4 separate regions of the Homo sapiens genome follow, and all the other regions are linked to region 1. Evidence: fine-mapped expression QTL. A gene starts in region 1. Each other region holds a variant in brackets. All regions are shown on one strand. Distances are between the middles of the regions.

Region 1 (7,368 bases):
TAGCCTCGGGGTTGGCTCTGGGAGCCTGGCCCTGCCTGCTCCAGCTCCCATTTCTCACCTCCGCTTTGTGGCTGATCATCCAGAAAGGTCGCCATGAGGATGTTTGGTATCCAGGTGTCGCTTTACCTTCAGCCTCCCTCCTGGGGCGCCTCTGGTTCCCGGGAGAGAGGCCGAGCCAGGGATGGAAAGAAGCCCATCCCTTGGGACACACGGCTTGGGACCTTACCTAAGTGTCCTGGGTCTACCTGTCGGGAACTCTGTGGATGCCATTCCCCTCACGACACTACAGGCGTCCCCGATGCAGACACCACAGGTCTGCATCTTTGTGCCTCTGTGTGGCCTGGGGCAAGTCGCTGAACCTCTCTGCATATTCTGTAAAACGCGAAAAACAGTGCCTTCTCCCAGCTCTCTGTAAAGACCAATAGTTTACAGCATGGGGAGCACTCTGGCAGGTACCTGGAGCGCCTAGTGCTCCCTAATGCCAGGTGTAATGGTGACAATCGTTCTTTAGGCAAGTATTAAATGATGTTTATGGAAAGATGGCATCATCTGTGCTATAATTTAAGGCAGAATAAAGACTAGACAGAGCTAGAGAGAGACTTAGCTGAACAAATCAGCTCCTGAAATTGTGGGTGTTGGAAGGTCCAGGGGCAGCTGGGGACTGGGGAGAGTTGGGTTGCAGTCCAGGCTGTCTGGGAGCAGAGCTCCCTCTTCCTCAGGGAACCTCTGTCTTTTTCTCTCAAGCCCCTTGATAGATTGGGTGAGGCCCACCCACGTTATGTCACACACCTTACTCAAAGTCTACTGATATAAGTGTCAATCTCATCTAAACATACCTTCACAGAGACATCTAACCTAGCATTTGACCCAATATCTGGGCACGGTGGCCCAGCCAAGTTGACAAGTAATAAAGCCAATGACCACAGAGACCAAGGGTCTCCACCCTGGTGCCCCAACATGACATGGTGCCAGCCAGAGGATATTGGCCAGGGGACAGAGTGGATGGCACAGGGTTGAGGAAAGAAGCCAATAGCATGTGTGGAGATGCCCAAGGGGTGAAGAGGGAGATCGGAGAAGCGGGACAGGCCAGAGGGTGTGGCCCTTTCCTTTCATCTTGCTTTTAAGATGCAACAGATTTCAGCAGTGTTTCTCAAAGTGTGGACCAGCACATTCAACATCCCAGGAAATTTTGCTAGAAATGCACATCCTCGGGCCCCATCCCAGACCTCCTGGATCAGCAAGGAGCCATCAGAGCCCAGCTGTGTGAGCTTAACAAGTCCTCGGTAGATCCTGACGCAGCCCAAGGCTGGGCAGGCTGGAGGGCACCTGCATGCCAGGAGAGCGGCCGGGAGAAGAGGGCAGGTGCTCAGAGGGAGTGTGGCCTAGGGCCGTGTGGGCTGAGGACCAGGGAGGGTGTTGTGCCTTAGACTAGTGGAAAGGGCAGGGCCTGCATTTCAGGACCCTTCTGCCTGATGACAGGCTTTCCCTGAAGCTGGAGGGGCAGGGTTGGGGTGGGGGGGCGGTGGGGGATGGGGAGTGGTGAAGGTTCCCTGAACTGACAGGGAATGAGAGGAGCAGACCCATTTGAGGGCACTTTTTGCAGACCATGTGTAGACAGGAGGTAGCAATTGTGCCGCCGTAGGCACCCTGGGCAGCCCAGGGAACGCTTGTCCACAGAGGGAGAGGCTCCCATCCACTCTGAGGCCTTTCCAGAGTTCTCCTTTCACTGGTCTCCAAAGAGATTCTGTAGAACCAAGTGAAACTGCTGATACTCAATACGTTTCTCATGTTAAACAAAAACAAAAACAAAGCAGCCATTTCTTACAGATTTATTCAATACTTTCTATCTGGTTATTATGCCTCTTATTCTGTAATTATTTTTTATTATGAATTATTTATTTCCAGATCTGTCTGGCCTATAAGGCCTGTAGGCACTATAAGGGGGAGTACTGCGTCACCTTCATCTTTTTATCCCTTTGGCCTTGCTCCGTGCCTGAAAGCTCACCACACTGGAACGTCCAGGTGCACATGTGCCACTGGACACCGGGATGTTGCCGGATGCTCTTTTGGACGCTGGAATGCTGGTGCATTGTTGCCGGATGCTGGAATGGTGCACGCACGCTCTGTTGGACGCTGGAATGCTGGTGCATTGTTGCCGGATGCTGGAATGGTGCACGCATGCCCTGTTGGACTCTGGAATGCTGGTGCATTGTTGCCAAATGCCGGAATGGTACACGGATGCTCTGTTGGACGCTGGAATGCTGGTGCATTGTTGCCGGATGCTGGAATGGTGCACGCATGCTCTGTTGGACGCTGGAATGCTGGCGCATGTGCACATGTTATTGGCATGAGCTGTAGTTCAAACCTCAGCCATATGATGCTTGAATTCCCAAACCATTCGTGGAAATGTGTACTTCTTCCTGCTGGAATTCTCTCTCTCTCTCTCTCTCTTTTAACTGATTGGGGAGTGAGGTGGGGGGGGGGGTCTTGCTACATTGCCCAGGCTCAAACTTCTGGGCTCAAATGATCCTCCTGCTTCTGCCTCAGCTTCTGCCTCGGCCTCCGGAGTAGCTGGGACTACAGGCCTGAAATACTGTTTCTTTAAGGAAGGGCATGTTACCTATAATACCAAACCACAAAAGGATAGCTGCGGTTTTGGGCGAGGAGAGCTCAGAGAGTTTCTTGCATATGGCCCTGTGATGGCGGCCATGGCCCTGCATAGACACGAGCTGGAATCTGCAGGTGGCAGCCAGGACGCTGCGTGTGTCGAGTGCACAGTGTGGCTTGGTGCCAACCATGGCGAGGGTGGAGAGCCCCGTGCCTGCAGCGCGCGCTTCCCTCACTGGGTCCTGCGTCCTTGGGCAGGCGATGCCCCTGCGGGGAGGGGCTGGTCCATCCCCGGCCAGCCACGGACCCACGCATGGACCCAGCGACCCACGGACCTGCTTACCTGGGCGCGGCGCGGGTGGCATGCGGCCACACGGAAGGGGCGCGCTGGGCTGCTGCGGCCTCTGCAGCTTCTACACCTGCCACGGGGCGGCCGGAGGTAAAGGGAGGCGGCGGCCAGGCGCGGCCCCGCGGAGGCAGCTGCACTCGCTCGGTCCACTCGCGGCTTCGCGGCTGCCCGCAAACCAGGAGGGCGTGGAGACCCGGAACCGGGGGGAAGGGCGGGGGCACTTGTGCGGCACCCGCGGGGCTCCCAGGGGACCTCGGCGGTGACACGAATTTCTAGGTGACCTTGGCGGTGACACGAATTTCTAGGTGACCTGTGTGATACACTAGGTGACCTAGTGACACAGGTGACACTTCCAGGTGACCGCGGCGGTGACCCGCGGGGCTCCCAGGTGACCTCGTTGGTGAGCCCCGGGGCTCCCCGACGACCGCGGCGGTGACACGCGGGGCTCCCAGGTGACCCCGGCGGTGCACTCACAGGACTCCCAGGTGACCCGCGGTGGTGACACACCGGGGCGGGCGCGCGCCGCTTCCGCTTCCGCCGAGCCGCCCCCCGCCCCCCGCGGCGCAGCGCGCGCCCCCCTCCCGGTGGCGCGGAACCAATCCTGGGCAGGGAGGCGGCGGCTGGAGGCTGAAAGCGCTGCCGTGGCCCCCTCCCCGCCTCCGCCGCGCCCCCTCCGCACTCGCACGGCCCCACCCGCAGGCGCCCCCCGTGCGGAGGAAGCGGATCTGCCAGGATCATTTTTGTTGTGTCGGAGGATGAGGTTTTGGCTGAGGACTGAAGAGATGGCCTTGGAAGAAATGGTGCAGAGATTAAATGCGGTTTCCAAGCACACGGGTAGGAGGAGCTGCTGGCCGTCAGTGATCTGTGCTTAAGCTTGACATCATGGGCTGAAATGTGGGGAAATGCGTCTGATTTTTGTAAGCCGCCCTCGTGTTCCTTTCTAGCCGTGGTAGCTGTGACATGGGGGGCACTGGTTGGCAGCTGGTGTGTTTTCAGAGGCTGTCGGCGATCGTATGCTGCCCGGGATAGTCAAAATGACTGCACGTTGGTGACACTGGCTCTCTCAGGGTTGCTGGGTCTGCATGCGGAGCCATTTGTGTGTCTGAAGTCTGCCCATCAACCTGCCTGTCCGCAGCCCTCGCAATGGAGAATGCATTGCGAATGGAGAATGATCTGAGCCAAGGGCTTTCAGAGCTTGGGGTTTCAGAGCCAGGGGTAGGGATGGTGAAGCTACCTGGAAGCTCGTTTTGAGGATGAAAAAACCTGGACTAATCAGGTGGTTCTTTTCTTCATTAAATGCAATTTAAACCTAAGACAGATGTTTGAGACGGTATGGGTAAAGAGTGGACTGGACGTTCATTTTCAGTATTAATCGAAATATTACTTCAAATAAGCTTTGAAGAGTAGTTCAGATCGATTCTTTTAGGTGTAAGCAGAGACTGGGCTGACAGCTTGCATCTGGCCGTGGCTTTCAGGCGGTCGCATCTGAGTTCTCAGGCTGTGTTATGCAGAAGGGAGAGGCATCCTTAACTCGTTTTCCTTGAAATGAAGAGGAAATAATGATATATCATTAAAAGTAAGTTGCCAAGTGTTTTGCCTGATGTTGCCATATGTTATGTCATATATGCCATTACTAGTTGTCTAACTAGTACTTGCCTGGGAGATTAAAATGTCAGTTGCTTGGTTTGGGTGTGGTTCTCTTTCTCTGCCCACCCCGATGGATTCTGAGAGTGAACCAGTGATTAAATCAGCATAAGCACCATCGTATGGGATGGTCTAATCAAGATGTTTTTAATGGGGGCTTTTATGATCAAAGCTGCTGGGTTTATTGTATGTGGGTCGAAAGAAAACAAAACCATTTTCATGCCGTCTGCTCCCTGATTCTTAGAGAATCAGCTCTTTTTCTGAAGCTTGAGTGGAGCTTTTCCGTGCAGGGTTTGCAGGGTTTGAGTATGGTGAAGGGCTGCGTGGATGCCAGGTTCACAGGGAGGCTTCCGATCGGCTGTGGGGGTGGAGGAGAAAGCCCCCCTTGCTCTGCATGCCTCTGCGTGCCGTTCGGTGTCAGAGTCACAGAGTGGGAACCGCTCCAGAGGCTGATGTCATTCCCCAGGTTTTTAGGGATTGGGGTTTCTTCATGAGCTCCAAGAGACATGTGCGCATTTTTAATTGGAAAAAGGCTATCTCAGAAGAGCAGCAGTGACACTGTCTGCTCACTGAATGTCGTGCGAGCCGGGCGCTCGGTGTGGGCCATCGTCTCATCTGGAACAGGCAGTGAGATGTGCGTCCTCCCACACATCTGCATTACCGATAATTGCATGCTTCACCAGGACTTTCAAGTCCAGCTTACCAGATATCCTCGGTTATGAGCACCCTGTAGCGTTTAGTTAGGGGAGGTGACCCTGCATCATACTCCACTTACCACCCATTAACACTGGCCTCTTCCTTCAGCACAAACCCATTTTCTGCTCACGCTGTGTGAGGTACTGCTCAGCGGAGGCAAGTTATTAGGTTGAAGGCTGTAAAACCATCATGAGGGGGTTTATGATGCAGTATTGACATGATGCTACCACAGAGTGTACGGGTATGTGGTGCACATTCTCTGGTAGGGGTGAAGGTCAAGGTAAACCTGATCCCCACCTCGGGTTTAAATTCCAAGCACTTCCTCAGGAGAGTTCCCCACCTGCAGCCAAACACTCTTCAGCGGGAGGTCATGGAGCTGCTTCTCCTTCTGGGGTCATGCTAGGATCCGTGCCAGGTAAAAGCTGATGGCAACAGGACACTGATGTGGCGGCTGGTGTAGGTCCTCAGGGCAGTGGCGGGGCTAGGTCACAGCTGAGGGATTGCGTACAGCGGCTGGCCTTAGAGCAGCTGCCTCATTCAGCTGTGCAGAGCTTCACCCTCTGTAGATTCACCCCCAACCCACAGGCATTTTATCTTTGCTGCTGTCCAGGACATGCTGCTGTGTTTTAATTTCAGATTTATGCATTTCTTCTGTCACCTAGAACCTTCATTAGCTAGGCTAATCTGCATGTAAAGGAGGATAATGTGTGCTGTCCATATGGTCTGTGAATCTGTAGCCTTTGACCTTGAGAATTGACATTTTATATACTTTTCTGAACCTGATCTTCAGTAACAAGGCCAGGGGCACTTTCCAGTGGCAACTTCCCCCTGGCCCCCCTTCTATGTGATAGGGCTCATTTTCGTCTGTTTTGGTTTTCTCTTTGGAATTTTAGTCATTGGTGAAAAGGTAGAAGACATTCGAGGGAGCAATGCTATGGATCTAGTTGATTTAAGCATTCGATGAAACAGAACAGTGGTCCTCCAACTACAGCATGTACATGCGTCACCTTGGGGGCTTGTTAAAGCACAGGCTGCTGGGCCCACCCTCAGAGTTTCTGATTCAGGAAGTCTGGGGTAGGGTCTGATAATTGACATTTCTTAAGTTCTTGATGAAGTTCTTCAGGAATCAAACTTGGGGAACTACTGTGGTAGAAGAATCTTTAAATCTAGCCCCACCTTTTCCATTAGTTGACCTAATACTAACTCTTGTCATAGACAGATGATGATAGATGGATAATGCATGGATAAATGAGTGGATGGATGGATGAATGGGTAGATGGGTGGGTGGGTGGATGGATGGGTGGGTGGATGAATGTAGGGGTGGATGAATGGATGTGTGGGTGGGTGGATGGATGGATGGATGGATGATGATGGATGGATGGATGTGTAAGTGGGTGGATGGATGGATGGATGGATGGATGGATGGATAAATGAGTTAGTAGATAGTGGATAAGTGGGTGGATGGATGGGTGGGTGGATGAATGTAAGGGTGGATGAGTGGGTGTGTGGGTGGATGGATGGATGGATGATGATGGATGGATGGATGTGTGAGTGGATGGATGGATGTGTGGGTGGATGGATGGATAAATAGATAAATGGAGGATGATGAATGGGTAGATGGATGGATGAGTGGATGCTTGGACGGATGAGTGGATGGATGGATGGATGAATGAGTTGGTAGATAGATGGATGAGTGGATATATGTATGTAAGGTAGATGGAGGGGTAGGTGGATGGGTGTATGGATGGATGGATGACTGGATGACTGGATAGATGAATGGGTGGGTGGATGGATGGAGGGAGGGAGGGATGGATGCATAGATGAGTGGATGCATGGAGTGGAGGAGTGGATGGATGGATGGAAGGTGGATGGATGGATGAATGGATGGATGGATGGATGAGCAAAAGCTGTGTGCTGCCTCCTGTCCTTAAGCTCTTCCTGGGAAGGGCCTGTGGCCTGAGCAATGGGCTGAGGGACACAGCAGCACGGAGGGGCTTTGGGGGATGAGGGGGCTTCCCAGGACCACCACACAGGCACAGCTGTTCGGCACCCCCCAGTTGCAGGTCTCAGAG
Region 2 (7,368 bases), 120 kb after region 1:
ACACAGCCCAGCCCACATGGGATTCTGTGTGATGTGCTGACCCGTCCCTCCAGGGTGGAGCCGTGCCCGGATTATCTGGCACACAGCAGGGACGTGGGGCGGCCTAGACTGGGGATTCCAGCTATGAGTTTGCCATGTGGGTCCCTCTAACCTTCAGGCAGGAAACTGCAACTCCATGCCTTTGGCCAGGGTTAGGGTGGCGAGAGGAAACTCCCCAGGGAGCAGGTGCGAGGGGTTTGCACCTGGCATCAGGGTGGCAGGAGGGAGCTCCCCGGGGAGCAGGTGCGAGGGGTTTGCACCTGGCATCAGGGTGGCAGGAGGGAGCTCCCCGGGGAGCAGGTGCGAGGGGTTTGCACCTGGCATCAGGGTGGCAGGAGGGAGCTCCCCGGGGAGCAGGTGCGAGGGGTTTGCACCTGGCATCCGGGTGGCAGGAGGGAGCTCCCCGGGGAGCAGGTGCGAGGGGTTTGCACCTGGCATCCGGGTGGCAGGAGGGAGCTCCCCGGGGAGCAGGTGCCAAGGGTCTGCACCTGGCAGGGGTGCTGCCCCATCTGCAGCACCACTCAGTCTGTCCCAGCTGCAGGAGGGCAGGCAGGGCAGCTCCCCACAGACCAGGGGAGGGTGAGCAGCATCCCTACCTCGTGCCAAGCTCCTGAGGGGTCTGTTCCAGGGGAGCCAGGGCTCTCCGTGTCCCGACGCGGTTGCCTCACCCCATGCCCCTCAGGAAATGCTGAAATACAGCAGGAACTGCGAGGGGGCTGAGGACCTGCAGGAGGCGCTGAGCTCCATCCTGGGCATCCTGAAGGCCGTGAACGACTCCATGCACCTCATCGCTATCACCGGCTATGACGTAAGGCGCCCAGATGCCCGGTCTTCCCCGCCGCCTCCGTGGAATACACCAGCCCAGCAACTTGGCGGCCTCCCTGCACACGCCCCTCGCTTTGGTGTGAATGTGCAGGTTCTGGGCAGGAGGTCTGGGGTGGTCCCTAGATAAGCCCACTCCCAGGCCCCACAGCCGGGTCCACAGACCCCACAGCCGGGTCCACAGACCCCACTGGGCTCTCTGGGACGTGGAGAAAATCAGGAAGCGTCCCTTGCTTGGAGGGCACGCATCTCCAGCAGGAACGCAGCTCAGACCTCCTCACTCCTTGTCTTCTCCTGGGGAGGAGGCGTGGCTCGGAGCAGACGTGACTTCTGTTTTCTGGGCTGCGATTTGCAGGCTGGTGACTTAGAGCAAGTGGCCCCAGAAGGCAGATGTCACTTTCCCCGTAGAGCCCCACATCAGGTCACAGCTTATTCATCTTTTGTCCGTCTTTATGTCCACCCAGCACTCATTCTCAGGTGTTTTTTTTTTAACTAATAGAGTTGATTTATTGCAGCAATTTTTGGTTTGTGAGATAATTGAGTATAAATCAGAGGCCCTGAGGCTTCCCCTAGTGTTGACATTTAGCATGGGTGCCACACCTGCCACACATGGTGAACTAGCGCTGATGCTGATTAGTGACTGAGGGCCGTTCCCCTTGGAGCTCACTCTGGGTGCTGTGCATTCTGCGGTTTGGACAGGCGTGTAACATCCTACACCCAGCGCTAGAGCATCACACAGAGCAGCTTCACTGTCCTAGAAGCCCATGTGCCCCGCCAGTCCATCCCTCCTCCCCCAGCCCCTGGCACCTGCTGACCTGTCAGTCTCCACGAGCTTGCCTTTCCTGGGACGCCCTGCAGCTGGAATCCCACCGTGGGTGGGCTTTGCAGAGTGGCTGCTTTCACTCAGCGATGCGCGTCCATGGCCCCAGGCCCATCCCGTCCTGAACACAGCCCTGCTGTCGCACATTTAGGGGAATCTCGGCGACCTGGGCAAGCTGCTGATGCAGGGCTCGTTCAGCGTCTGGACCGACCACAAGAGGGGCCACACCAAGGTGAAGGAGCTGGCCAGGTTCAAGCCCATGCAGCGGCACCTGTTCCTGCACGAGAAGGCAGTGCTCTTCTGCAAGAAGAGGGAGGAGAATGGGGAGGGGTATGAGAAAGCTCCCTCCTACAGCTACAAGCAGTCCTTAAACGTAAGTGAGGCCGGGTCTGCAGCAGCACGCTCCTGGCCACAGACCCCGACGGGGGAAGTCTGTAACTCGGTCTGAGGTGG[C/A]CACGCTGACACCCAGCTCTCAGCCTTAGGTGTAGGGGTGGGGTATTCTGCCATTCTTAGCCCTCACCCCCAAAGTATTTCCATCATTTCGTGCCTGCACCAACACCTTTTAAAAACAAGGCAGTGGGTTCACTGTGCACGCGAACCCCATCTCCACTCTCTGCTCGCAGATGGCTGCCGTTGGCATTACGGAGAACGTGAAGGGAGATGCTAAGAAGTTCGAGATCTGGTACAACGCGCGCGAGGAGGTCTACATCGTCCAGGTGGGCCACCCACCCTACCCCTGGCCTCTTACACATTGCCACGAATGGTTTCTCATGGGAACCAGTGCAAGGATCTGCCATGAAGTTGCATCGAGCCCAGGAGCAGCCGCTGTACACTTCAGGATGCTGCCCTGGGCTGTCTTCACCCTGAGCTGGACCCAGAATGAAATGTGGGGAAAAGTACACATCAGACGGGGTGCTGCGAGGAAACGGGCTCTCCCTCCCCAGGGGAGCTCATGTGTCCCTGGACGGTGCAAGTGTGCATCTGGCACGCAGGGCCGATTCTCACGGTGGGGAGGGTGCCGTGCCCTGGGTGCCAGGCACAGTTCTTCAGTCAGTCCCGTGCATGGGGCACAGAGGGTCCCGCAATGCGGGGCCACCCACAGTGCTTTCCTCCTCTCCCCTCACACGCAGCCACCTGACCTTTGACTCCTAAGATTATCTTTGGATGTTCCGAGAGTGAAACCAAAGCGTGTTTCCTCGGGGGCCTGAGTACTCACCTCCTGGCGTTTCTTTTGGGGAAACAGGCGCCAACTCCTGAGATTAAAGCCGCGTGGGTGAATGAAATTCGGAAAGTGCTGACCAGCCAGCTGCAGGCTTGTAGAGGTGAGGCTGTCTTCAAGCGATCGTTTCCCGTAGCTTCCGCTCCAGGTGCATTTTTACCTATGTTCAGAGCAACCGCACAGTCCCCCCATGCGCAAGGTGCCTCGGCGTTGAAGTAAAGACGCTCGTTCACGTGGTTTGTCTGCTCCCTCCTCGCAGAAGCCAGCCAGCACCGGGCGCTGGAGCAGTCACAGAGCCTGCCCCTGCCGGCCCCGACCAGCACCAGGTGAGAATGGACACGCTGCCGCAGGCCTGCGTTTCTGGAGCAGTCCCGAGCAGGCCATTTGCACGCCAGGGTCCTCGGCCTCTGTCAGTGGGACCCTGTGGTTATTGGGGTTTTCCTTGAGGCCCCTGGTGTTTATGTGCTGACGGGTCCGTCCCAGAGGGTGTACTTCACAGATGTGTGCCTCCGACAATGCCCAGTCCCTCTCCAGCTCTTCCCGGGGTGGGCTGTTCCACAGCACGGCAGTGCGCACATGGCCTGTCCAGATCACAGCCACGCCCCAGCACTCCTCAGACAGTCGGGGCTCAGCTGGGAGCCGGCACTGATGGCCCAGCACACACGTGGGCACGTTTCAGACTCCGACCCTGACCGTGGCTTCGTCGTGTCTCTTCTGCCCTTGTTTTTTCTTTATTTTGTTCATCCACTTATTTTTTTCACTTTATCCTGTTTCTTATATAAGCTACCTTTAATCATTCATGGAACAGGATATGGCCTAAATAAATAATCCGTAGAACAGTAGTTTTAAAAAAGAAACACTCCCCCGCCCCCCCCCCCGCCCCCCGAAAAAAAAAGCCTCATACTTCAGAGCAAGTAGGGTGGGCGTCTGTTCTCATCCAGCCCGTCCGGGTTTAACTTAGAAGTGTGTGGCCCCTCAGAAGCAGGAGGGTGGGCATCTGCTCTCATCCAGCCCGTCTGGGTTTAACTTAGAAGTGTGTGGCCCCTCAGAAGCAGGAGGGTGGGCGTCTGCTCTCATCCAGCCCGTCCGGGTTTAACTTAGAAGTGTGTGGCCCCTCAGAAGCAGGAGGGTGGGCGTCTGCTCTCATCCAGTCCGTCCGGGTTTAACTTAGAAACACGTGCAGGAGATGCTGCTTTAGGATCAGGCCGGGAGCTCAGAGATATCTGAATGCCTCAGGTCCTCAGGGCGTTCTGAAAGACTAACCAGGCAACACACTATTTCCTTTTTGATTTGTCTGATGTCATCAGTCCCTCAAGAGGAAACTCAAGGAACATCAAGAAGCTGGAAGAAAGGAAAACAGACCCCCTAAGCCTGGAGGGATACGTCAGCTCAGCGCCACTGACAAAGCCCCCCGAAAAGGGCAAAGGTGGGTATGTGCAGGGACCGGGCCTCACACGGAGGCCTCACACGGAGCTGCTCACGGAGTGCTCACTGCATCCGAGAAACCTGCGCTTCCTGCAGTGTGAAGAAGCTTTGCAGAGCATTCAGGGCCCCTTGCTCCCCTCTTAACAGAGCCCTAGGACCCCACAGAAGAGCCCCTCCCTCTCCATTGCTCTGCACCCCTGCATCAGCAAGGCCAGCCCCAGAAGGAGCCTCGGCCGAGCGTGCAACCCGGAGCCGCCTTGGGCCCTCCCTGCGACAGCCGGACCCGCCTCCGCATCGGGTTGCGATGCCCTCTGCATAGTTTCTTTCTCTTCCTTCATAGATGACACGGTCACTAGCTCTGCCTCAGAAAGCTCTGCGCTTTCCAGAAAGCGCTTTACCCTGCAGGGTTTTGCTAACCTCAAAGGTCAGAAAGGTAAAAGTAGTGCCTGCCCCAAACCCACCCTCACCGTGGTGGCGTCTGTCATGCATCGTGTGTGACCATTCGTGCCTCCTTCGTCACAAGGGCGGCCACGCAAAAGCGTTTCTTTCCACCCAATCACGTGTTCCCTGATGCTGTGTCTCGCGCACAGACACCAGAGTTATTTAGAGGTGGCTTTCCTTCGGGAAAATGAAGGCGAGCTTTTCAAATGGAGGCTTGCTCAGAAACGGAGCTGTCCTTGGCTTTCCAGGCCCCCTCCTTCCTCTCCCTGCCCCCCACCCCCGCCTTCTCCCGCCTTCTCAGGTGAGTTCCCTGCAGGGTGCTGACCTTGCTGGCTGCGTGTCTCTGCTCCGCCTGGTGGCAGAGGCCGCTCAGCCATCTTCTGGGGCATCCACTAGTGAACAGGGCTGATGGGACCCTTGAGACGGAGACGTCTAATGCCCTGCTCACCTGCGAGAGCTCCATGATGGGAAATACATGGCGGGGAAATGGGCCCAGGAGGCCCTGGAAGCCGGCCCTGGCGTGCAGGCGGCTCTTCTGGGAAGCCCTGAAGGCCAGCGTGGACAAGGGCTCTTTCCAGAGAAGTAGGAGTGTTTTCCAATTTATAAAATGCTTTTAAGTTGGCCTGAGACTTGAAACAAACAAACAAACAACAGATTCTGGTGCTGCAAACTCTGCTAGCGCAGAACTAAGAAAACGTCCCTAGAGACGGGCCCCGAAAGGACGCCTCTGAGTGCCGCAGCCCCCACTCCCATGCCCTCCCGGCCCCTCCTTCACTGCGCGGCCCCTCGGCTCCCTGTGTTTTGCTCACAGAAGCTCCTTTTTCATCGGTGGAAAGGGGCCACAACGTCGGTGTCCCCTTCCAGCACGAGCGCGGGTCAGCCTCCTCGCCGCCTCCCTCCGTCCTTCACACTCTCTCTCCGGTTGTATTTCTGCCTCCTCCTCCTCTTGCAGCTTCTCCTACCAGTCCTGACAAAAAAGCCAAGCGGCATGAAGTAAAGAGCGACCCGACTCCCTTTGGTGTGCGAGGTAGAGTGGCACCCTCGGGCACGGCACCCACTCTGCGTTGGCAGGAAGCGCGGCCCAGCTGGCTGTCAGGTGGCCGTCAAGGCCACCTAAGGGGGATGCTCTCGTGGGTCTTTATGCTGCGGAGGCAGACACGCGGTTGTGTTCAATGTGTGATGCTCTGGTGACAGGTCCTCGAGGACAGCACGCCTCTCAGCCAACTCCTCACAGCAGGTCTATCTGGAGCCTGCGGAACTGCCCACCCCGTCGGTGGCTGCTGGCCACGGCTGCTGCGCTGGTCACCTGGCCGTGCTGGGTGGAGCTGGGTGGGGTCTCACTGCCCAGTGGCTGCTGTCGGCTATAGGGCACCCTGTTCCCTGCCCTTCCCTGTGGCACAGTTTGCCCCGACACTTCCTGCTGGGAACACAGAGCATAGCAACTGGCAGGGCCGACCCGGACCCTCCTTTCCCGGGGCCAATGAGGCCGAGCTCCCTGTCCGACCCGGACCCTCCTTTCCCGGGCCGACGAGGCTGAGCTCCCTGTGGAACCTGGCCCTTCTCGTTTCCTGCCTCCCTTATATTCTCAGGGTGAAAACTGCCCTGTGAAGCCCAGAGACCTCCCCTGGCCTGTTGAGGACCTTCAAGTGCAGGGACGGGGCTCATGTTTGCAATCTTGAGTTTTCAAAAATTTGCAAAGGTTCCCAGGGGTGTAAGCAGAACCAGCCTTCCCATTCCGCCCGCCTCCACAGCCTCCTCACATGACACAGCGAGCCTCACAGAACCAGGCAGAAGCTGTGGCCACCCTGGGCATGAGTTCAGAGGCAGGGAGCTGGCCCGGCGTTACTGACTGTCCTGCCTGCAAGTGGGTGGGCGCCCGGCTTGCTGCTTCGAGGCCCCAGGAGTGCTTGGGAGAAGGGAGTCATTTCCCTGTTGACAGTCTCCTGGGAGAGGCTATTCTTGTCTGTCAAACCCTCTCCGCTTGTGAACTGGAGTCGGCAGAGCCGGTCCCTGGTGGAGAAGGTGGGCCGGGTGGGCCCTGTGGGCCAAATGCCGCTTCTGCTGCACTTTGGCCAAGCTCAGCCTCTGCTTCCGTCTCGTCATCCATGAATGAAGACAGTACAGCCTTGCAGGGTCTCGAGAAAGCCAGTGTGGTGTTGAAGCCGGGCCACTGCCCGTGGGTCATTTCCACCGTGGTCAGTGTGGTGTCAGAGCCGGGCCACTGCCCGTGGGTCATTTCCACCGTGGCCAGTGTGGTGTCGAAGCCGGGCCACTGCCTGTGGGTCATTTCCACCGTGGCCAGTGTGGCGTCGAAGCCGGGCCACTGCCCGTGGGTCATTTCTGCTGTGGTTGGTGGTAGTGAGCCCAGGTGGTTCTGGGTGGCCTGAGCGCTGCCCAGCACCCACTCCCCAAGCCCTGCAGGTGGTGACTCCAATGAGCAAAGGCCAATGGCTGTTTTACAGAAAACAGAGGGCACCTTCCTGGCCATCACCCGGCCTCCTGCCTTCACACAGAATCCCCCAGCTCCTGGTGCAGCAGTGCTGGCCTGGCCTGTGGCTGCCCACTCCCAGGCACTGCCGTTCCCATCATGGTCAGACCTCTG
Region 3 (7,368 bases), 110 kb after region 1:
GTGAGCCACCGCACCTGGCCCATTTAATGAATTACTACCAAATAATAGGCATATGAGAGAAACACACAGTTGGGAGGTCAAGCTGAATTTTCCTTTCAACACAGAAATTATTTCCACGCCAACCCTGCGAGGTGGCCATCCCGCCTCCGCTGGCAGACTTTGTGGCATGGGTGTGTTCTTCAGGAAGGGCCTGGCCCTGGGACCTGGTGATGCCCTTGAGACCAGGCTCCTCCTGAGCCCTCCACATGCCTGGGGAAGGCTGCAGGCCCCTCCCTCGCATGGAGCTGCCCTTTCCCGAGGCCGGGGCCCCGTCCCGTGTGGGGGCTGCATCCCCCTCTCCGTCCGTAGTGGCCAGGGCTGGACACAGCTGCGCTGCGCTGACAGACCCCGCATGGAGAACATTTAAAGCGGGGGTTGGGCGTGCCCCGGCACGTTCTGCGCCTGACTGTGTATTTTTAGTGATGACACCAACATGTGCAAGGCACCTTACTGAGCATGCGGTTTCAGGAGCACGTGCGAAAGGTCTTCCAGAAGCAGGCAAGCATGGAGGAGGTGTTCCACCGCAGGCAGGCCAGCCTGAAGAAGCTGGCGGCCAGGCAGACGCGGCCCGTGCAGCCGGTGGCCCCCAGACCCGAGGCACTGGCAAAGTCGCCCTGCCCCTCCCCAGGTCTGTGTGGCCGCCCGGTGCCCCGGGTGCTGTGGGACCCTCGGGGGAGCCCCGGGCGTTGAGAGCTTGGTACATCTGAGGCAGCCACCTGCGAAAACTGTCTCCACACGCCTCCTCCCCTTCCACCTCCGGGCCCCAGTTCAGGGCCTGAGGGCCGGTTCCCGCCACCCCTCACCCATGTTTATAAATGGAGTTTTGTCAGGACCCGGCCACGCCCATCCTGTGCCACGCACATCTTGTAGGCATCGTTGTGGCTGCTTTTCCATGAGGCTGGCAGGGTTCAGTGGTCTCAGTGAAGCCCACGTGGCCCAAAACTGGAAACACAGAGCTCCCACAGAGGAACCATCTCCGGCCTTCCCAGCTCCAGCCTCTCCACGGTCTGTCCTTTCCCGGTGCTATTGCCAAACAACATTCCTCACACACGGCCCAGACCCTGGGCTCCAGGAGCCCTGAAGAGCCACGTCCGCGCACCTCAGTCCGGCGCGCATTGCTGGTCCCAAACCCGCCCTCTATGCCGAGCCAGGCACGGCGCCATTTCCCAGAGACTTTCCCGCCACCTCTGTGTCTCAAAACGAACCCTCTTCCCATCCTTGCTGGTTTCTCACACACGAACCCACCAGGCGAGCTGCTGCCCCAGCTTTGGCGAAAGTCAGCTGTCAATCTCAGGGGCCCCGGGGGCCAGGCTCTTGCCTTCCTGTGCTGGGTCCCAGGCGACCTTATTTTCTGCCTGTTGGGAGCTCTCCCAGGTCGGAGCCCACAGGCGCTGTGTCCCCGTGGGCTGTGGGAACGTGGGGTGACTCAGGGCAGTGAGGCCCCACCGTCCTCCCCCTTCCCGCACCACCACCTGTGGCCTCAAAGGCCAAGTCCTGCCCACGCCACCACCTGTGGCCTCAGAGGCCAAGTCCTGCCCACGCCACCACCTGTGGCCTCAGAGGCCAAGTCCTGCCCACGCCACCACCTGTGGCCCCAGAGGCCAAGTCCTGCCCATGCCACCCCCTGTGGCCTCAGAGGCCAAGTCCTGCCCACGCCACCACCTGTGGCCTCAGAGGCCGAGTCCTACCCTCTCCTCGGGGCCTTTTCCCGCTGGGTGCACTTCCCCTCTCCAGAGGGTCAGAGGGGACTTCATGCCCCGCTCCCCTTCTTCCCAACAGGCATTCGGCGAGGCTCTGAGAACTCCAGCTCCGAGGGCGGTGCGCTCCGGAGAGGGCCCTACCGGAGGGCCAAGGTGAGGCTTGCCCAAGACAACCCCGCCATCCACACCCCCCTCCTTGGTTCACGCTGGGCCTGGTTCTCCGTGTGGCCCCCCCTCCCGGGCACTGCCCAGCTACCTGGCCAGCTCCCCATCGTGGGAATTCAGCCCTGTCCCCATACGGGAACTGGTGGGCTCTGGCCTTGAGAGTTGGCCCTTGAGGTTCCGTCCCGCCTTTCAGACCTGACGCTGTTTTTCTCCCCAGAGTGAGATGAGTGAGAGCCGGCAGGGCCGCGGCTCAGCGGGGGAGGAGGAGGAAAGCCTGGCCATCCTGCGCAGGTGGGTGCGCTGCCCTTCTGTCCTCACAGGGGCCCTCCGACCGCAGCCTGAACCACCAGATGCCGTCAGGCACTCGAGCAGATGCCTCACAGATAGAAGGCTGGTGCAGAAGTCATTGTGGTTCTTACTTTTGCACCAACCGATACCCAGAGGGCCTGCCGTGGCTCGAGCGTGTGTCCTGGTCCCCACCGCGTGAAGCACACACACGCCGCACACACACCACTCGGGATTCAGGAGGGAAGAGAGGGCGATGGCTGAATGCAACAGTGAAGGGGCATCTTCGCCCCAGCAAGAGCCTCCACCCGCCACTGCCATTCACAGGAGACACCACTCAAAGGCCCCAACCAGCACCAGCTGCAGCAGCAGTCACCAGCTGCTCAGGGCTCAGTGTGGCAGGCAGTGGTGCCAGGCAGCTGGTGTGTGGGAGGGCATCGTCTCCAGCCCTCCTTTTCCCCTGGGATTCCTGGACCCTCAAACTCAGGGAGTGTTGTGCAAACAAAAGCAGTTCTCTTTCCTCCTTCACCTTTAAGAAAGAAAGACCTCACTGGTGCAGGGCCAGGGAATGCAGGTCCCCAGAGCAAAACTGGGAAGGAGCCAAACACCCATGAGGCACACGCGGCTCCCTCCCAGAGGCCCTCGAGGAAGAGGAGGAGGCCACACACCGACCAGGCACCCGCCACTGGCTTCACACTTTGCACTGTCTCCGTTTTTAGTATTTGCACTGAATATGTTTGCAAGAGACGCTTGGAACCACGTCTCCCCCTTTCACCATCAAAACTCCAAAATCAGGAAAGAAGAAAAGGCTCTTCCTGATGTGTTGACAAGCAGGTGTCCGCAGGCAGCGCCAGTGTGACCCTGCAGGGTTGGGAGACGGCGCAAAATTGGGAATTACAGGAAACTGAGCTTGGTGTGAAAGCTGAGTCTGTCACTTCCGGCTTCTGATGGAAGCTGGTGAAACAGGATGGGAAGGAAGAGGGGCTTGCCAAGAAGCGTCCAGGCAGAGGATTGTCCACACGGAGGAGGGTCCAAGCAGAGGGGCGTCTGCACGGAGGAGGGTCCAGGCAGAGGAATGTCTGAATGGAGGAGGGTCCAGGCAGAGGAGAGTCCATACGGAAGAGGGTCCAGGCAGAGGGGCATCCGCACAGAGGAGGGTCCAGGCAGGGGAGTGTTCGTATGGAGGAGAGTCCAGGCAGAGGAGTGTCCATACCGAGGAGAGTCCAGGCAGAGGAACGTCTGAATGGAGGAGGGTCCAGGCAGAGGAGAGTCCATACGGAAGAGGGTCCAGGCAGGGGGGCATCCGCACAGAGGAGGGTCCAGGCAGGAGAGTGTTCGTATGGAGGAGAGTCCAGGCAGAGGAGTGTCCATACCGAGGAGAGTCCAGGCAGAGGAACGTCTGAATGGAGGAGGGTCCAGGCAGAGGAGAGTCCATACGGAAGAGGGTCCAGGCAGGGGGGCATCCGCACAGAGGAGGGTCCAGGCAGGAGAGTGTTCGTATGGAGGAGGGTCCAGGCAGAGGAGTGTCTGTACGGAGGAGGGTCCAGGCAGAGGAGTGTCCATACGGAGGAGGGTCTAGGCAGAGGGGCGTCCGCAGGGAGGAGCAGCAAGTGCTCGGCCCTGAGACGCAGAAGGAGTGGCCCTCGGCTGGCAGTTCCTGGGTTGTGAGAGGGAGTCCAGAGCCCTCTTGCTCCCCAGTCCTCTCCCCTGTGCCGAGTCCGGGGCCTCTGCGGGCCGACAGCTGTCTTAGAACAAGCTTGCTGAACAACCTCAACCCAGGACCAGCCCCCTGGCTCCAGTTTCTGTGCATCACATAAGCAGGCAGGGCCGTAGGCTGCTGAAAGGTGCTCACACCCACAGCAAGACCTGCGCAGCCAGCTTGTGCACCCTCCCCTTCTGGATCCAGTGTGGTGGGTGCAGGGTCACTCCCCGGACCACCACTGCCCACCTGCTGTGTGTGAGGGCGTGGGCAGGGGGCAGCTCCGGCGATGCCAGACCCCCGCCCTGGCCACGAGGGGCCACACAGATACCCACCACGAGGAAGGCTCAGGGAGGCCGGGCAGCAGGCGGGCGTCTTCTTGGCAGAAGAGACTCGGGTGGATTCTAGGGATGGGTCCTAGGAGTAGGATGACTTGCCCATGAGCGTGAGGAACTCAGCTCATTTTGCACAGGTGGGACCCAAAAGCCCAGGAGGCGAGTCTGGGAATCCCTCCTACCAGGCGGTGTGTGCCGGGCCAGGGGCAAGACACTGCCGGCCAGTCTGGGAACCAGGGAGGCTTCAGCCGCCGTCTGCAGGGTCTGAGGCCGCGAGCTGGGAGGGGAACCCCGAGGAGCGTCCAGCCTGTGGGCTTTGGGTCGCCGCCAGTCCCCTCCTGCTGGGCAGGCCATCATTCTAGGTGGCACCTGTGAGACTGTGGAGCAGACCATTCCTGCTCTCCCAGTGCTAACCTTTTTTGCTCTCCACATGACCTGCCACCAGGCACGTGATGAGCGAGCTCCTGGACACAGAACGGGCCTACGTGGAGGAGCTGCTGTGCGTCCTGGAGGTGAGGCTGGACTCGGGGAGGGCCGACTGCCACGGGGACTCCCCTGGGCCAGCTGGTGGGGCTTCCTCTGACAACTGCTGCTCGGAGCAGCCTGCTGTCCACCAAATGCATGTGAGAGAGCGCCCACAGCAGCCTGGTC[G/A]GGCCCCAGACGGGGAGCCCCTGGGGGCCTATCAACAAGACACAGACCAGGCAGCTCAGGGGGGTCCGTACAGGGGACAAGTGTAGTGATAAGAAAGAGGAGCTGACACACAACAGATGCACAAACCACACACACATCGTCACCAACACAGGCCACAGGGTGCCTGCGATTCCCGGCACGGGGCACTCCAGGGCAAGCAAAACTCGTCGGAGGTGGGAGGCAGATTAGAGGTGACCTTGGCAGTGGGCTGTTGCCTGGGTGAGCTTGATGTGAGTGGTGGTCACCTGAGTATAGACAGGCATCTCATTCACCCAGTGTGCACAGGTAGTGATCACCTGAGTGTAGACAGCGAGTGTGCACAGGTGGTGGTCACTTGAGTGTAGACGGGTGTCCGAATCACCGAGTGTTCAGAGGTGGTGGTCACCCAAGTGTAGACGGGTGTCTGATTCACCGAGTGTGCACAGGTGGTGGTCAACTGAGTGTTGACAGGTGTCTGATTCACTGAGTGTGCACATGTGGTCACCTGAGTGTAGACAGCGAGTGTGCACATGTGATCACCTGAGTGTAGACAGCGAGTGTGCACAGGTGGTGACCACCTGAGTGTAGACAGCGAGTGTGCACAGGTGGTGGTCACCCAAATGTAGACGGGTGTCTGAGTCACCGAGTGTGCACAGGTGGTGGTCACCTGAGTGTAGTCGAGTGTCTGATTTACTGAGTGTGAGCAGGTCACCCGAGTGTAGACATAAGATTTGTGCCCTCTGTTTCAGTTACACCTGAATCATAAAAGGTTAAAAGGGAGAAGGGTAGAACCTCCACCCCATTCCCCCAAATTGGTGCTGTTCATAATGCTTTTGCTTTGATGGATGCCTGTCCCGGTAACTTAGAAATCACCCGAGAATAAAGATGAAGGGCTGGCCTGGCCCACAGATGAGCCGGCATCCCTGGCCCACCTGCCCCCCCACAGCATCAGGCCCAGGACCCCCGCCGACCTCTGCGCTCTCCCTGCAGGGCTACGCCGCGGAGATGGATAACCCACTGATGGCTCACCTCCTGTCAACAGGCCTTCACAACAAGAAGGATGTTTTGTTTGGAAACATGGAGGAAATCTATCACTTCCACAACAGGTGGGCCCTTCCCCCCGACACAGGCACGCACCCGTGATCTCTTGCAGCTAATGGTGCTGGCTTCAGGGGGCTGGAATGGGGGTGGAGGCCAGGCCATGCCTGGCTAGGGAGGGGCGCCCAAGGGGTGGACTCACAGAGGCACAGGCTTGAGTGTGGGTACATGGGGCCATCTCTGAGCGCCCACGTGGCACCGTACCTGGTGGCCTGTGTCTAGGCAGCCAAGTTGTAAGTGAGCCGCCAGCCGTGAGGAGAGGGCTCTGAGCCCGAGTGCGCCCTGTTTTGTGGTGCAGGAAATGGGACCCGCCTGCCCCTCATCCCCTCCTCATCCTGCTGGGCAGGTGGAAGCCGGAACCCCCTCCCAGGTGTGTATTCGGCCCTTTAGGGGGTCACCGAAGGCCATACCACATAGCAAGGCCTGTTTTGTTCCCAAGCTCTTGAAAAGGACGGCAAACTAGGCGTTCCTTACCCATCATGGGGGCTGCTTGTCCCCCGAGCGACCCGTGGCCTCTCCAGTGCAGGTGGCCTGTCCGGCCTCTTGTCCTCCACTCCTCTGAGCTGTTTGGCTGCTTTAACACAGTTTTGGGGAGCTCATGGGAAGGTGTAGGGTGCACACGCAGTGCAGAATGCCAGGGAGGCTGCAGTGGACAGCCCCCGCTGCGTGTCCTGGAAGGAACCCATGTGAGTGGCTCCCATGCGGCCATGTGCTTGGGGACCAGCGTGCCCCACTGGCCATGGGAATCGCCAGTGCTTGGGATGTTGTTCTGACACCTGTTTCTTGCCCTCTCATCACCTCACCTGCCACTTACAAGGAGGCAGCAGGTCTGCAGTTGACCACCAAGGAGCCTTCCACGTCCACGGAGCTTGGGCAGAACCTTAGTGTCCCTTAGTATCTGTCCTCATGGCCCCCAGGGTCTCAGCCAGTCCTGCACGCAGGGGTCCCCACAGCTTTCAGCTGTTGTGCTCATGCCCCAAATCCATCCCCCAGACGGTTTTCCCCTCCAGCCGGACTTCCTCCAGGGGACAGATGCAACAGAAAACAGCCCAGGAGCCTGGGGGCGGCGCTGCCTAGGGCCAGGGCTCAGGGTGTGTCTGCAGAGAACCCACAGACCCACGGCCAGTTATGGGGGTGGCGCCTCCAGGGCCCTGAAAGGTCCCATCTCTGTCTTTGCCTGCGGCCCTGTGAGCCGTGTGTGTGCTGAGGGAAAAGCAGCTCCCTCCAACTTCTGTGTGCAGCCAAGGCCAGAAATATAAAGAGACTCAGCCTGGGGCTGCACCTGCTGGCGCCTGAGAGCTTGGTGCTCAGGACAGGCGTGGCTGCGGCGTCTCCAAGTCATGCGGGGCAGATTGCCCAGAGCAAGGCGTAACAGGCT
Region 4 (7,368 bases), 54 kb after region 1:
CCTGTCCAGGTAGGAGTTCCGTGTGGCTAAGTAGTGTCTAGTTTCAGAATGTGATGCCTTCTTGATGTCATCTCCACACTGGCAGGAGGAGGTTTTTATTTAGTTCTTATTTTAAGATTTTTCTACCCGACAGTTAACTTAGGATACAGATGTCATAGTAAATTAACCACTGGAATGCTTTCATTCCTAAGCAGCTCATGTGGGTGAGTTTCTAAAGCCGTGTTTGGGCCGAGGCATCACACAAGAGGGTGTCCCTAAGATGCATCACGTCCGTGGAGAAAACAAAGCAGGACACACGTGTGAGTCGTCACACCCTTGGTCACCCGGCTTGGCCGTCACACATGCCTCCTGCCCAGGACGCGTGTGCGTGTGTGTATCTACCTGTGTGTCTCAACTCAGGCTGCTTGCTGTGACAAAGTCCCCTAGACTGAGTGGTTTAAGCCACAGTTTATTTCTCTTGGTTCTGGGGCAGGAAGTCCCGGATGAAGGCACCGGCAGATGTGCTGCCTGGTGAGGGCTCACTTCCTGATTTACAGACTGCAGCCTTCTCGCTGTCCTCATGTGGCCAGGCGAGCAGAGCAAGCCCACAGAATCCCATTCACGGGAGCCCCACTCCCACGGCCTCCTCCCCTCCCACAAGCCCCACCTCCCAGCACTGTCCCCGTGGGGGTCAGCATTTCAACACATGAATTCAGGGGAAGACAGACATCCAGTCCATAACAGTGTATATGTGTAGCTGTGTGTATGTGTAGATGTGTGTATGTATAGTGTGTGCGCGTGTGAATGTGTAGCTATGTATGTTTGCATGTATGTGTAGTGTGTATATGTGTGTATGTGTAGATGTGTGTATGTGTAGATGTGTGTATGTGTGTGTATGTGTAGTGTGTATGCATGTGCATGTGTAGCTGTGTATGTGTATATGTGTGTACTTGTAGATGTGTATGTGTGTGTATGTGTAGCTGTGTATCTGTATGGTAGCTGTGTATGTGCGTGTAGCTGTGTGTGTATATCCATGTGTGTATATATAGGTGTGTATGTTTGTACATATATGTACATATACATACCTACACATCCACATGCATATGTGTGCAGCTGTGTATACATGTGTGTGTAGGTGTGTGTCTAGCTGTATGTGCAGCTATGTATCTGTGTATAGCTGTGTACATATGTGTGTGTTTATAAGTAGCTGTGTGTGTAACTGTATGTGTGTATATGTACATGTATGTGTGTATAGGTAGCTGTGTGTAGCTGTGTGTGTATTAAACTGAGTGTGTATCTCACACTAAAGCAGATCCCGTAGGAACCACACTTCTTTCTGGTGATGGGGATGAGAGGGAGTTGCATCTGCCTTCTGCCCCTAGCGAGTGGATGTAGGCCCAGTTGCTTGGGTGCGAGAGTTCACATGCAGGTGTGACAGGTCTCAGCCAGGACAGTGGTTTTTGGACGTGGGTGGGGACCGGAGGCTGCCCCTGGTGCTGTGTGGACAGGGTGCTGTTCTGAACCACAGAGGAGCTTCGGAGCCCTCTGTCCTCTGCGGCGTTCAGTCCGCCTCCAGTTACTAGGCCGGGTGTAGACACAGAAGTAGAGCCTGTTCTTGGTGCCATTGGCCCCGGGTCCTGGCACTGCCCACCTTGGTGGGGAGGGTTTCTCCAGAGAGGGGCTGTGCCCCCAGCTCCGCGTCCAGCGGTGTTTTGCTGCCTCATAACCTGCAGGTACTGGGAGCTTTGGCGCCTGCTTTTCAGTCTCAGTGGACAGACTGGGATTTCCACTCCTGACTTGGGAAGAAAGAACAGGGTCTTTGCTTTGCATTGAGGCTGTGGTGGAGCACAGAGAGTTCAGAGATACCCAGGGTAGCAGCAGCCTGAGACCAGCACCAGCTACCAACTGAACGAGGCTGTGCGGCCCAGGCCAGGCCCCCGTGCGATTTCAGCTCCGGGTCACCTGGCCCCCATCCTCTCCCCTGGGCAGCTGGAGGCTCCAGGCCTTCCTGTGGCTAGCTCCTGCCCCAAGGCTGCCCTGCTGACTGCACCCTCGACCCTGTGGCTCAGGCTGGCCTCTGGGGGTCCCCGGTCTCTGTGGTTCCAGTGAGGCAGCAGCTCCCAGATGCCACCTCCACACTGTGGGTGGGCCAGCCAGTGCTGAGAGGGAGCCACTCTCCACCTCTGTGTCCACCATCCACTCCAAGCTCCCAGGCTGCCTCCACGTTGTGTCCACCGTCCACTCCAAGCTCCCAGGCTGCCTCCACGTTTGGGCATGAGGGGATCTTGTTGCATCCGCTCCTCTTCCTAGCTGGGCCCTCCACAGCCAGTGTACCCCAAGGAGCAGCTTCTCCCTCCCACCCACCCCCGCCGGCCAGGGGTCCTCATGCCGTGGCCCATGCCCATTTGCACAGGGACGCAGGGGGTCTCACACACAGGCAGGGTCCGCCCCCAGCTGCCGTCGGCGTCACTCCACACACATAGGCTTCTGGGCGGTGCTGGAAGCTTCTGGCCCCTGAACGTTCCCCCCAGGCCCCGTTTCAGGGAAAGGAAAGGCAGGCGCAGGCTGCGGCCGTTTCCACAATCCACCTCGTAGCTGGGGCGTGCCGCTTGCCTCGGCTTGTCCCGGCAGAACACTCTTACCTTTAATGGCGACTGAAAAGTTGCCACGAGTTCCTGATCATTGTGGTAGGTGCTGCGTGAAGCTGAGACGTGCGTGAGCCACATCCCAGGGGGCTTTGAGCCCCCACCGCGGCGGCGGCTGAGGGGAGGCTTGTCGTACTCGCACAGGAGGACACAGGGCTGCAGTGTTCACTCCAGGGCCTCTTATCATTGGGATCTGAGGAATTTTCCGAGAGGAAGTGCGAATTAACAATGATGAAAGGTTTGTGAGTGAGTGACAGGCACGTTCTATTGAGCACTGCATGGGGCATTATGTGCCACCAGAGACGGGGGCAGAGGTCAAGAGCCCTCGAGGGCTGGGAGAGTTCGGAGGATAGAAGTCATCAGAGCACAATGAAGCCAGACCCTGCAGCCGCCTTCCCCTTCGGGGGCTTCCTTAGAATGCAGCATTGCGGGGACTGAGCTGTCCCAGGTGAAGGGGGGCCGTCACGGTGTGTGGACGCCCCTCGGCTCAGCCCTCTAAGAGACTCGGCAGCCAGGATGGGCTCAAGGCATGAGCCCTCAAAGGAGGTTAGGAAGGAGCGAGGGAGAAAAGATATGCTTGTGTGACGTCCTGGCCGAAGTGAGAACAATTGTATCAGATAATGAGTCATGTCCCATTGAGGGGTGCCGACAAGGACTCGGGAGGAGGCCACGGAGCCCTGTACTGAGGAGACGCCCACAGGGAGCCTCGGGGGCCCAGCGTCCCGGGATCACTGGATGGTAAAGCCGCCCTGCCTGGCGTGGCTGGGCTTGGCCAAGACCCAGAAGCAGAAGTTCCGGAAGCTGGAGACAGTGGCTGTGGGGGGCGCAAGGCGGCGGGGGACTGTCGCTGTTACGAGACAAAGCTGCAGTTGTCGGAGGCTGTGTGCACCCTGGGTCTTCTCAGTGAGGACGTGGATGAGGGGCGGCGAACCCACCATTATCTGTTCTCCATAAAAAGCTACCCTAAACTTAGTTAGCTTGAAAAGCCCTATTTTACAGATTTATTCTTCATTTAGTGGCTCAGAAGTTCCAAAAGGGCTCAGCCAGGTGGTTCTTCACTCCACGCACGGGGCACTGACTGTGTCCTCTGCTCAGCTGTGTCCTCATGGGGGCTGGGCTGGAAGGTCCTGGGGGCTGCAGTCCCGCACCTCCACCTCCCTGCCCTTTCACAAAGTCCACCCTCAACCCTGGGTACTGGCCTCCTCAGAGCAGGTGGATGCAGGGTCGTGGGACCACCTGCCCAATGACTACAGGGCATGAGAGGGCAGCTGCAGTGTTCTGAGTCCCAAGCTCACTTCCGCTGAGTCCTGTGGGCAAAACAGATCGCAAGGCCAGACCCAGGCTCGGGGGAGGGAAATGGACTC[C/T]GTCCGGCCAAGGCAGTGTGGCAGGGTCAGTGGCCGGCTCCAGCAGGCAGACCTGGAGCCCAGCCTGTGTGACTCCAAAGTCAGTGTTCGAATGGAGCTCTTTGGAATTGAATTGCTTAAAAGGCGCCAATGTCGGAGAAGCTAGACGATACCCACAAACAGTACAGTTAGGCAGGTTATTAGTGCACATGCATATATGGAATATTATGCAATATTTAAAATAATGGTTACATTGTTTAAAAGCATGGAAGCGGTTTGTTCTCAGTGTCAGGAAGGAGGCAGGAGACAAGCTTCTCTATGCAGTATCACCTCAACAAGGTTAAAAAAGCCCATAGAAAAAGGCTTGGAAAGAAGCATGTTGAATTGTCACGGTAGCTGTCCCATGGTGGCCAAAATAACGAGTGATTGTCTAAATTCACATCACTTTTGTGTACTTTCCAAATATTTTCTTCAAGCAGCACACATTTCTTTCAAATAAAAATTATGCAACGATGAAGAACATGCCTCAGTTTTAACTGAAATACTGGGTGCTGATGAAAACGGGCCGACATCTGTGGAACCCCCGGGGGCATGGAGCCCTCGGCTAAGGGTCTGCCTCTGGTCTCTCCCCAGGTGGGCGGGGGCAGGACGGAAGCCCGGTTATCACCTTCCCTGACTACCCGGCCTTCAGCGAGATTCCGGACAAGGAGTTCCAGAATGTCATGACCTACCTCACCAGCATCCCCAGGTACGTGCACCCAGAGCCCGGCAGACATTGTGGTTTGGGGCAGAGTCCCTGTGAGATTTCACCAGGGTGGGGTCCCTGCAACTATGGGATGAGGCAGAGTCCCTGTGAGATTTCCCTGTCATGGGGTCCCCGTGACTGTGGGTCGGGGCAGAGTCCCTGTGAGATTTCCCCATCATGCGGTCCCCGTGACTGTGGGTCAGGGCAGAGTCTCTGTGAGGTTTCATCATGGTGGGGTCCCCGTGACTGTGGGTTGGGGCAGAATCTCTGTGAGGTTTCATCATGGTGGGGTCCCCGTGACTGTGGGTCGGGGCAGAGTCCCTGTGAGATTTCACCAGGGTGGGGTCCCTGCAACTATGGGATGAGGCAGAGTCCCTGTGAGATTTCCCCATCATGCGGTCCCCGTGACTGTGGGTCAGGGCAGAGTCCCTGTGAGGTTTCCCCATTGTGGGGTCCCCGTGACTGTGGGTCGGGGCAGAGTCCCTGTGAGATTTCCCCGTCATGGGGTCCCCGTGACTGTGGGTCAGGGCAGAGTCTCCGTGAGGTTTCATCATGGTGGGGTCCCCGTGACTGTGGGTCGGGGCAGAGTCTCTGTGAGGTTTCGTCATGGTGGGGTCCCCGTGACTGTGGGTCGGGGCAGAGTCTCTGTGAGGTTTCATCATGGTGGGGTCCCCGTGACTGTGGGTCGGGGCAGAGTCTCTGTGAGGTTTCATCATGGTGGGGTCCCCGTGACTGTGGGTCGGGGCAGAGTCTCTGTGAGGTTTCATCATCGTGGGGTCCCCGTGACTGTGGGTTGGGGCAGAGTCTCTGGGAGGTTTCATCATGGTGGGGTCCCCGTGACTGTGGGTCGGGGCAGAGTCCCTGTGAGGTTTCCCCATTGTGGGGTCCCTGCAACTATGGGATGAGGCAGAGTCCCTGTGAGATTTCCCTGTCATGGGGTCCCCGTGACTGTGGGTCGGGGCAGAGTCCCTGTGAGATTTCACCAGGGTGGGGTCCCTGCAACTATGGGATGAGGCAGAGTCCCTGTGAGATTTCCCTGTCATGGGGTCCCCGTGACTGTGGGTCGGGGCAGAGTCTCTGTGAGGTTTCATCATGGTGGGGTCCCCGTGACTGTGGGTCGGGGCAGAGTCCCTGTGAGGTTTCCCCATTGTGGGGTCCCCGTGACTGTGGGTCGGGGCAGAGTCCCTGTGAGATTTCCCCGTCATGGGGTCCCCGTGACTGTGGGTCGGGGCAGAGTCTCCGTGAGGTTTCATCATGGTGGGGTCCCCGTGACTGTGGGTCGGGGCAGAGTCCCTGTGAGATTTCCCCATCATGCGGTCCCCGTGACTGTGGGTCGGGGCAGAGTCTCTGTGAGGTTTCATCATGGTGGGGTCCCCGTGACTGTGGGTCGGGGCAGAGTCTCTGTGAGGTTCCACCATGGTGGGGTCCCCGTGACTGTGGGTCGGGGCAGAGTCTCTGTGAGGTTCCACCAGGCTGGGGTCCCCGTGACTGTGGGTCGGGGCAGAGTCTCTGTGAGGTTCCACCATGGTGGGGTCCCCGTGACTGCAGGATGAATTAGGGTCTCTGGGAGCCATCATTGAGTTCCCCGTGGCTTTGCTGAGGGGTTAGAGCTTTGTCAGCATCATGGTTCCGAGGAGCTCAGGAGTCTGCCTCAGATCTGATCTGGGGTCCGAATCCAGCTTTTTCGCTCCTGAGCTGCCGTTTTTTCCTGGAGCTCGGAGGCCCACCTGGAGGCCCAGTTGCTCAGCAGTCGGGATCTGACTTAGCCTGAGCGCTGCTGTGCTCCCTCGTATACCATCACTGCGCATGCCTGTTCGATCAGCAGAGTTCTGCGGTGCGAGGGCTTCTGTGTTCTTAATGCCGAGGAGCCCATCTGCACGGGACCTGATGCTCATGGGAGCAGAGCCCGTCCACGTGGCCTCTCTGTGTCGTGGTCAGGCCCTGGGGGCGTGGCCGCCTCCTGCCCTTTCCAGGAAAGAACTGACCCCAGAGGTACCAGAAAATCCAGTTAACAAAAATGGTTCCCTCAGGCTGCAGTTTTTTGTTTTGTTCCAGACAGAGCTGGGTCCCTGTCCTCTGAAAAGGTAGGGAGCCCAGTTCTGTGTCTCCCCAGCGGCGGGCAGGAGAGCAGCATCAGGCCGGTGAGCTGCAGGCTGACTTGGGAGGGGTGCCGCGGGGGTCTCTCATCTGATGTGCTCGTCCCAGCCTCCAGGAAGATGCTGAGAATGTCAGCCTCACACCAGACAGTGTAGTTGCTGCTTCCATTTGGGGTATAGTGAACACACACCAAGTAAAAACAGAAATATCCTTAAATATGGCATCTGTATCCCGCACATTACATAAGGTGGCAAAACACAGAGGAGATGTTTAACCATCAGCGTGAAAGTGCAGCCGTGGCCATTACCGTGAAGGTTCTTCATTCTTCAGTCTTTAAAGACAACAGCGCACTGGGCCTGGTAACTGAGAGCTCAGCCCGTCGGCCTGACCTGGAAAGCAGCACATTGATCCCCTGATAAATATCACATAACCACCAGCTGGCAGCAGCCAGCCTCTGCAGTCATGCCTCAAGGAGAGGGAGAGCGGTGGGCACCTCTGTCCACTTGGCGGGTTGAGGTGGGAGCTGGAGGAGCAGGGAGCCTCACCGGTGGGCCTTTCG

Direction of the effects. Positions count from the first base shown, and alleles are read on the strand shown. Sizes are in standard deviations (SD) of each study's normalised expression. Not every link is listed here.
In carriers of allele G in region 3, the expression in ovary of the gene that starts at base 3,546 in region 1 tends to be lower than with A alone (moderate effect, 0.44 SD a copy in GTEx).
For the expression in liver of the gene that starts at base 3,546 in region 1, allele C in region 4 goes with a lower level than allele T (moderate effect, 0.63 SD a copy in GTEx).

Evidence for each region. PIP is the estimated chance that this variant, and not a neighbour inherited with it, causes the effect. A credible set is the group of variants that fine-mapping cannot tell apart.
Region 2: its variant is the best candidate, but not a certain one, in a credible set for the expression of MCF2L in lung (TOPMed, PIP 0.85).
Region 3: its variant is the best candidate, but not a certain one, in a credible set for the expression of MCF2L in ovary (GTEx, PIP 0.69).
Region 4: its variant is the best candidate, but not a certain one, in a credible set for the expression of MCF2L in liver (GTEx, PIP 0.89).

Annotation. Positions count from the first base shown.
Region 1 is chr13:112,965,669-112,973,036 of GRCh38, forward strand. MCF2L (MCF.2 cell line derived transforming sequence like) reads left to right here and starts at 3,546. Exons shown (of 30, transcript NM_001112732.3): 1 at 3,546-3,790. The coding sequence starts at 3,712. MCF2L-AS1 (MCF2L antisense RNA 1) reads right to left here and starts at 2,970. Exons shown (of 1, transcript NR_034002.1): 1 at 1,816-2,970. RefSeq lists an enhancer at 2,701-3,220 and a silencer at 3,422-3,481.
Region 2 is chr13:113,085,403-113,092,770 of GRCh38, forward strand. It overlaps MCF2L (MCF.2 cell line derived transforming sequence like), which reads left to right. Exons shown (of 30, transcript NM_001112732.3): 21 at 722-847; 22 at 1,833-2,054; 23 at 2,305-2,397; 24 at 2,925-3,003; 25 at 3,160-3,226; 26 at 4,208-4,326. Among named protein-coding and RNA genes, the nearest start is that of F7, 17 kb to the right of the region's middle. RefSeq lists enhancers at 4,479-4,984, 7,067-7,368. The variant C/A (reference allele first, on the strand shown) is at 2,135.
Region 3 is chr13:113,076,545-113,083,912 of GRCh38, forward strand. It overlaps MCF2L (MCF.2 cell line derived transforming sequence like), which reads left to right. Exons shown (of 30, transcript NM_001112732.3): 13 at 508-667; 14 at 1,819-1,892; 15 at 2,122-2,195; 16 at 4,669-4,735; 17 at 5,883-5,998. Among named protein-coding and RNA genes, the nearest start is that of F7, 26 kb to the right of the region's middle. The variant G/A (reference allele first, on the strand shown) is at 4,875.
Region 4 is chr13:113,020,044-113,027,411 of GRCh38, forward strand. MCF2L (MCF.2 cell line derived transforming sequence like) reads left to right here. Exons shown (of 30, transcript NM_001112732.3): 3 at 4,601-4,715. Among named protein-coding and RNA genes, the nearest start is that of MCF2L, 55 kb to the left of the region's middle. RefSeq lists enhancers at 1,970-2,604, 2,605-3,240, 7,262-7,368. The variant C/T (reference allele first, on the strand shown) is at 3,989.